Linked DNA regions of Homo sapiens: region 2 is linked to region 1. The links come from fine-mapping of genetic effects on gene expression. A gene starts in region 1. The other region holds a variant in brackets. All regions are shown on one strand. Distances are between the middles of the regions.

The links. PIP is the estimated chance that this variant, and not a neighbour inherited with it, causes the effect.
Region 2: its variant is the best candidate, but not a certain one, in a credible set for the expression of SPRYD7 in lung (TOPMed, PIP 0.81).

What each region holds. Positions count from the first base shown.
Region 1 is chr13:49,934,628-49,939,022 of GRCh38, forward strand. It overlaps SPRYD7 (SPRY domain containing 7), which reads right to left and starts at 1,713. Exons shown (of 5, transcript NM_020456.4): 1 at 1,503-1,713. The coding sequence starts at 1,608. RefSeq lists enhancers at 1,524-1,773, 2,644-2,693 and a silencer at 1,814-2,063.
Region 2 is chr13:50,101,225-50,105,619 of GRCh38, forward strand. All of the region lies in intron 1 of DLEU2 (deleted in lymphocytic leukemia 2), which reads right to left. The region is part of intron 2 of DLEU1 (deleted in lymphocytic leukemia 1); the gene reads left to right. Among named protein-coding and RNA genes, the nearest start is that of DLEU1, 21 kb to the left of the region's middle. The variant T/A (reference allele first, on the strand shown) is at 2,315.

The sequences.
Region 1 (4,395 bases):
TTACTCTATTTCATCCAGTTAGTAGCTGACAGTTGCTGGACAGCTTTGGAGAAATAAAACACAGTGGAATGAGTATATCTGACCAGCTCTTCCTAGAGGAAACAGATGACAGAGAAAAGGAATGCTCCAAAGAGGAGACTGCAGTAATTCAAGAGTCTAACAGTAAAGATAGGAAGAAGTGCTGCAGTTGATCATGAGTTCCAGGAATTATGTATGGTTGTCCTTCACTATATTCTCAGCACTTATAACAATGCCTGCCACCTGATAATTGCTTAATAAATATCACTTCAGTAAATGAGTAACTGAAATGGAAATATTTTCTGAGGAAAACTATAGAATTTGAACTCCATCGTCTATAAATAATGATGGATAAAAAATAATTTAAAGATTACTTATGTATTAAGGTTCTGTACTACATTTGGGAGATCTGAGAATTAAAAGTAAATACACACATACAAGGTGATTATATAGTTATCACATTTAGTATGTGTTATACAAAAATACAGTGGGCAGAGTGTTTCCAGAATTATAAGGAAACTGGGCGAGAGAGTTTTATCATAAATATTAAGAAGTGCCTTTTTATTTCAATGCACTGTCCTTTAAACAATCAGAAACGTGTAAAAAATCAAAAGTGCAGAAGTACAGTTAGAATAAAATAATCCACAAAAAGACAGTACTCTAACTGAAATAATTATATTGGGAAATCTCTCCTTCTAGAACCACATTCCAGAAGCATGAAACTACCTGGGAAAAGTCTAAGAAATAATAAGGTGGTGAAAGAGGCTATGATGGGAGAGGAAGAATGTTAGATAAATTATATGGATTTGGAATTAAAAGGATAAAGCAAGATGCAAAGGAGCAAAGTGCTATTTTATTTTTCAACAGTTAGACCTGTTGGGAAGAGGCCAGTCAGATGAAATTACAGTACCTCTCACAATGACTAAGGAGTCGGGCAATGGGAGGTTTTAGTTGAAATGGCAAGTTCTGACCTGAGGTGCGACTTCAGACTTCTGCAGTCTGCCTTGTTTCGACTTTAGGAGGTGAGAGGAAAATTACTTCCAATAATATAGGATTCAACCTATAAATGATGGGGCTCAAGAGACAGGACCGACAGTCAGGGCAGGAGGAGGAGCAAGACCGGACCTAGAAGCATTCTGAAAATGTGTAGGTTTTCACTGGGGCGCGCCAGAAGGGCACTCTCCGCCCCCTCGCCCGAGGACGTGTGACATCTCCGGAGGAAGCCTCCGAGATTCCTGTGAAAATGGGAGGTCCACACGCCCATTCGCGATGACAGACACAGAGAGGGCTGCGCAGCCTTGAACACAGAACCGGGCCCAGGTGGAGTCCGCCGGCTTCTGGAGAGATCTGCGAGACGAAATGGTGTCGGCGCAGCGTCGCCGGCGCGGCGGGGCAGCGTGGGGACCCTCTGACCCTGAAGGTCCCCCTGCCCGCCGCGCCCGGCCCCCGTGAGCCGTTGGGTCTGGGGAAGGGAGGGCCCTTACCCATGTGCTGCGTGTCCAGCTGCACGGCCGGCATCTCCTTCAGAGGGATGTGGCCAGTCCCCCCGTCTCTGCAGCACCGCAGGCAGCACAACACCGAGGTGGCCATCGCGCAGGGACCACCGACTCCGCCGCCGTCCCTAGACCGAGGCGACACTGCCCCCCGCCGCTCAGCTCCGTCTCCTGCCCCCGCCCGAGGTCCGGACTTGTCTATGTGGAGCTCGGAGGCCGGTACAGCGACACCCTAGGCCGGGAGGGCGCAATGCAGGCTGAGCTTAGGCTGGCCTGCGAGGAAGACGCGGAGAATCAAGGGGCCGGGGAGAGACCGGACAGGGCGAGCGGCCGGGCTGGGCCGGGGAGACGGGTGGGGCTAGTGGCGCGCGGAGGCGTGGCAGGGGGCGTGGCGTTGCGGGCCTGCGGATGTGGGACGGCGTGCGCCTGCGCACCAGCTGGTTTTTTCTCCTTGGGCGGTTTCGCGCACGCCCCCAGGGCTGACAGGTGAGTGGGGCTGTCTGTCCCTCAGTACTTCCAGGGGTTTTCCTATGCAGAATTTTTAAAACGCAGCACCCCTTGGTCCCGGCCTCGACATTATTTCTAGGGATGGATTGACAGAAGCGAATCAGTTTGGGGGAAGGGGAGCTAATGGAAATGACTTCCGAGTTTTCCCTCCGCGGGCCCAGGTTGAGCAGGCTTTGCCACCACGGAGAGCCCCAGTCTCCCTGCCGTGGCTGGTTTCCCTCACATGCTAAATAGACTCACGTGGGCCCCAGGAGTAATGCCTGTTAGTGACTGCACTGTGGATGTTCACCGGGGCTCACGCGGGCCCTAATGCATTTTCGGTGCAGAGACGCGCCCTACCTGGCCCATCGGGCTGCGTGGTCCGGGGCGCGTGGGAGGCCGCCCTGGGAGCAGAACGCTGGGGCGGGGTCGGGGGCGATTCTTGACCTGCCTCTTCCAAGCTCCCCCTGTCTGGTGCACTGAGGGTTCCGAGGAATGTGACGGGAACCCAGGAGGCTGCGGGAAGTCTGCTGGGTCCCGAGGGAAGCCTTCGGCTCCTACCGTCCGCTACTTTCTGCTTCCACACGGGAGGCTGTCACCTGTCATCTCCTTCCCCACTTAGATCATCCTTCCGTGGTAGATTTTACATCTTCAGGCCGGGTGCAGTGGCTCACGCCTGTAATCCCAGCACTTTGGGAGGCTGAGGTGGGCGGATCACCTGAGGTCAGGAGTTCAAGACCAGGATGGCCAACATGGTGAAACCCCGTCTCTACTAAAAATACAAAAATTAGCTGGGTGCGGTGGTGCACGCCTGTAATCCCAGCCACTCAGGAGGTTGTGGCACGAGAATCGCTTAAACCCGGGAGGCGGAGGTTACAGTGAGCCTAGATCGCGCCACTGCCCTCCAGCCTGGGCAACAGAGACTCTGTCTCCAAAAAAAAAAAAAAAAAAAAAAAGATACCGCTTGGCATCTGGAAATGTCTGGGACGACCTCTAGAATTAACCTAGCTCAAACCTCTGTTCCCAGATCAGTTTCATCCTGAAGGCTTCCCTAGGGATGGATCATCAAGTCCTGGGAAACTGGACATAAAATGCCCACTACTTAAATAATGATTTCCCATACGTAACTTTTAGTGACCCGAGTTATAAATGTTTTTTAAGGAGGATTTCTATCTATGCAATGAGGGGAATTTTTCAGGTTCCTGGTTCTCTTTCTATAAATGGTGTTTTCATTACAATACTAAGGGAAAGTTTTGTACGTTGAAATTAAGTTACCATAGAATTTAATAACCAAGGTGATTATTAAACTGATTGAGGGTTGGTCTTTTCCCCCATTGCGTATGCAGTACTTTCTTGGTAATCATTTCACACAAGAAATTTTCTTTTATGACAAACCTTCATCGTTATGCTGGGAATTAAGTGCTTTGATTTTTTTTTTTTTTTTTTTTTTTAACCCCAGGGAAGTGCTGGGGGCGGGGCAGGGGGTGAGAATTTTAACAGAATATTGGAGAGACAAAATTTTTCTACCGTTCATATATATATATCTAGTTGAATTATTTCAAGATTTCAAGGTCAGTATTGTCCCCATTTTATAGGTGAAGAAATAGGCCTAGAGGTACTAAACTTTACAACTTCAGGTGAGCAGGAGATAAACAGGTAGGATTCAAGGCTTACCAGTCTGATTCCTGTTAGAAGAAAAACTTCAGCTGAACTAAATTTAAAGGAGTTAAACTGAGCAGTGAATGACTGGGCAGCCCCCAGAATCACAGCAGATTCAGAGAGACTCCAGGGATGCCTCGTGGTCAGAACAAATTTTTAGACAAAAAGAGGGAAGTGACGTACAGAAATCAGCAGTGAGATACAGAAACAGCTGCATTGGTTACAGGGGGGCGTTTGCCTTATTTGAACACAGTTTGAACAATCAGCAGTGTATGACTGGTTGAAGTATGGCCGCTGGGATTGGCCAAGACTCAGCTATTGTTACAGGTGCATACTCCTAAATTAGGTTTTCAAGCTTGTCTGCCTATTAACCTAGGTTACAGTTCGTACACAAGGACTCAAATACAGAAGTACAGAGTCCTTCTCAGGCCATATTTAGTTTGCTTTAACACTGCCTCTCAAATTCTTTCTCTTATAATTAATGCTATAATCCTCTTAAACATGCTCTCAGTTCAAAATGCAGATTTGCCCTTTTTTGTGTGTTTCATTTATCTCCACATTGGATATAAGCTGCCATAATGCATGTATAGACAAAATATAATAGAATTAGTTGTTATAAAGTAAAAATTTTGTTCAGAAATATTATTAAAAGAAGTACATGTATTATATATGTAATAAACATTTAGGCCATTCAAGTCAGTCACATCTTCAATGAAAAGCCAGACACTAAATGGCCGTG
Region 2 (4,395 bases), 170 kb after region 1:
GTTAGAGATTTCAATACCCCTCTTTAAATGATTGCTAAAACAAGTAGAAACTTACAAGGATATAGTAAACTCAAGCAACACTGTAACCAAATTAACAGTACAGGTTGAGCATCCCTAATCTGAAATACAAAATGCTCCAAAATCCAAAATTTTTTGAGCACCAACATGACCCAATACGTTGGGTCCTATTCCCAGGATCTCTTATTATATATATATATATAAATGTTCAGAAAATCCAAAAAACTTTGAAATCTGAAACACTTCTGGTCCCAAGCATTTTGGATAAGGGATACTCAACCTGTAATAGAATATATATTCTCTTCAAAGTATACATGAAACATTTACCCAAATCGATCATATTCTAGGCCAGAGGTTATCAAACTATGGCCCTGAGGCCAAATGTAGTCTGTTTTTGTATAGTCCATGAACTAAAAATGGTTTTTACATTTTGAAAGATTTCTTTAAGAAGAAAAGAAAATATGTGACAAAGATCATATGTGGCCCACAGAGTTTAAAATATTTACTGTCTGACCCTTTAGAGAAGTTTGCCTGCCCCTGTTCTAGGCCATAAAACATGTCTCAGTAAATTTTAAAGGATTCAGATAATGCAGAGTATGTCTTCTGACTACAGTAGAATTAAAATTAGAAATCAATAACAGAAAGCTGTCTGGAAAATCCCCAAATGTTTGGAAACAAAATAACATGCTACTAAATAACCTTCTAATAACCCATTGATTAAAATAGGAGTGCAGTAAAATTAGAAGGCATTTTGAGCTGAATGAAAATGAAAACAAAGCATATCAAATTTTGTGGCATGCCACTAAAGCAGTATGTAGGAAGACATAAGCAAAATGCTTATATTAGAAAATATAAAAAGTCTCAAGTTAATGAGCTTCCACCTTAAGAAATTAGAAAAGAAGAACAAATTAAACACAAAGAAACAAAAGAAATAATAAAGATCAAAGTAGAAATAAATGAAATGGAAAACAAAATAAATTGAGAGTATTAATGAAACCAAACCCTGGTTCTTTGAGATAAATAAAATTGATAAATCTTTTGCCACGCTGATCAGGAAAAAAAAAAAAAAAAGAGAGAAGACACATATTACCAATATCAGGAATGAGAGGTGAAATATGACAAATTCTACAGATACTTAAAGAATAGCAAGGGAATATTATGAAAAACCTTAAGCAAATAAAATTCAACAACTTAGATGAAATGGTCAAATTCCTTGAAAGACATAACTACCAAAGCTTACTCAAAAAGAAGTACAGCCAGGTGCAGTGGCTCACACCTGTAATCCCAGCATTTTGGGAGTTTGAGGTGGGCAGATCACTTAAGTCCAGGAGTTCGAGACCAGCCTGGGCAATGTGAAGAAACCCCATCTCTACTAAAAATACAAAAAAATTTAGCTGGGTGTGGTGGTGCATGACTGTAGTCCCAGCTACTTGGGGGGCTAAGGCGGGAGGATCGCTTGAGCTTGCGAGATTGAGCCCTGATTATGCCACTGCATTCCAGCCTGGGTGAAAGAGTGAGACCCTGTCTCAAAAAAAAAAAAAAAAAGAAAAAAAAGAAAAAAAAAAGAAAAAAAAGAAAAAAAAAAGAAAAAGAAATAGATAACTTCCAAAGCTATGTATCTATTTTTAAAAAATTAATAGTTAAAAATATTCTCACAAAGAAACACTAGTGGATTCTTCCAGACACTTAGGGATAACACTGTGTATACCAATTATATACAAATCTTCCAGAAAACTGAAGAGGAAGGAATACGTCTCAGTTTATTTTTGGGGGCCAGCATTACCCTGATACCTAAACCACACAAAGCCATTACAAGAAAAGAAAACTATAGCCCAGTTTCCCTCTTGAACATGGATGTAATAATTCTCAACGAAACTTTAACAAGTCAAATCCAACAAAATATAAGAAAGTTAATATTACTGGATGAGGTTTATCCCAAAAATATGTCATTGCTTTAAATTAAAAAATTAATCATTGTAAGTCACTATATTAAGCTAAAAAAGAAAATCTGATCATTTCAATAGACACCCAAAAAATCTGACAAAATCGTATATTTGTTCCTGATTTTAAAAAACCAAAAACAAAAAAAACAAAAAAAACAAAAAAAAAACCAAACCTGTTAGCAAACTAGGAATAGAAGGGTACTTTCTCAACCAGATAAAGGACATCTATAAAAATCCTACAGATAGCCTTATGCATAATGATGAAAAACTGCATGCTTTCCCTTTCCCCGTAAGATAAAGAATAATACAAAGATATCTGCTCTGACCACTTTCATTCAACATCAGAGGTTCTG[T/A]CCAGGGCAATCAGGCAAGAAAAAGAAATAAATCGCATTCAAGTTAGAAAGGAAGAAATACAACTGATGATAGCCATCATTCCTAAGAGTTCCCCTTGCCTCTTTATAATCCTTGCCTCCTCTTACCTCTCTCCCCAGGAAACCACTGGCCTGTTTTCTGTCACTAGAGACCAGTTTGCATTTTCTAGAACTGATATATGTGGAATCATGCAGTATGTTACTCAATTTTTTTTGTCAGTAATTGGTAGCTTATCTTGCAATCAAAGTTCATATACAACCATTTGATCTTCATTCCATTCCCTCATTAGTCCATAGAATGTCAATCAATTTTTCTTTCTTTTATTTATTTATTTTAACGAAACAGGGTCTTGTTGTGTTGCCTAGGCTGGAGTGCAGGCTTACTTCAACCTCCAACTCCTGGGCTCAGGTGATCCTCCCGCCTAAGCCTCCAGAGTAGCTGGGACTACAAGGGTGTGTCACCATGCCTGGCTAACTTTTTAAAATTTTTTGTATTGATGGGGTCTTGCCATGTTGCCCAGGCTGGTCTCGAACTCCTGAGCTCAAGACCTCCCAAAGTGCTGGGATTACAGGCATGAGCCACTGCGCCTGGACTCAATTTCTGTATGATGATGACTTTCATATGTACATCAACAGGCCAGATAGCTTATCAAGAAAGCTTCTCCTCTGTCTTCTAGTAATATCCCACTTAGATCTGACATTATTTTTTTCCTTCAAGGTATTTCTTCCAAATTTCTTGGCTGTTGTTGGTGACAACACAAGTTTTTGGACCTTTAAGTTTACAATCTTAGGTTCATTTCCTTATTTTATTTCTTCCCTATAGGTAAATGATCACTAAACTTGTTACTTCTTATAGTTACTTCTTTGTAAGGCACTGCAGATATGTTTCTTTTCATTTTTAAAATTGCCCATTTAATTCAAGCTATTAAATATCAAGCTTGTACTATATCAAGAGTACTATATATCAAGACTATAGCCTCTTGATATTTTCCCTACCCTCCCATCCTGCCATACCCATGTCTCCACTAGCCTATATAAAACATAAAATACTTTTCATCAAACTCTCTGTAGAGAAGTGTTGCTGGGCGAATAAGAAAAACCTGATTGACTAGAAAGCAAATGTAAATGTAATCTCCTTTCTTTTCAGTGATTCTACCAGAAAGGAATGAAGAACAGAACCTTCAGGAATTGAGTCACAATGCAGACAAATATCAAATGGGAGATTGTTGCAAGGAAGAGATTGATGATAGTATTTTCTACTAGCCATTGGGAAGATAAAAGGAGACAGAAGATTGAAGCCTTTGCCAGCCATTCTTTCCCTTTTTGCTTCCAAACTCCTCAACTGGGAACCTTCATATGTGCAGTATTTATATTGGATCATACTGGTGATTATAAAAGTTCCTAGGAGGCTAGAAGAGCCAACCAACAGAGAAGGGAAAGCAGTCTGTTCTGAACATAGGGACATAAGTTCATTCATGCCAAGTATCTTTCCAGCATGTTTCTCCCATTTAGAATATCTAGCATGTAAGGCCTTTCAATATTAATATAAGCCCAATATCAGCTCTTTCTCTTTGTATTTCATCTCTTTCTACTCTCCTATTTGTATTTTGTGTTCCTATCAAAGTGTCGTATCTGGGAGATGACCTGCCTTATCCTGTTCTATAACAGTTTTGTTTGCTGCTGTGTCTTTAGAACAGTGCCTGGCACACAGTAAGCACTCAATAAATCTTTGATGAATGAATGAATGGTTATCTTTTCTCTCTGGCAATCCAAATTCACCACTCCTTAAAAATTCTACATAAGATTTGCTGGCTGGGCGCAGTGACTCACGCCTGTAATCCCAGCACTTTGGGAGACTGAGACAGGTGGATCACCTGAGGTCAGGAGTTTGAGACCAGTCTCAACATAGCGAAACCCCATCTCTACTAAAAGTACAAAAATTAGCCGGGCGTGGTGGCAGGCGCCTGTAATCCCAGCTACTTGGGAGACTGAGGCAGGAGAATCACTTGAGCCCAGGGGGGCAGAGGTTGCAGTGAGCTGAGATCACGCCACTTCACTCCAGC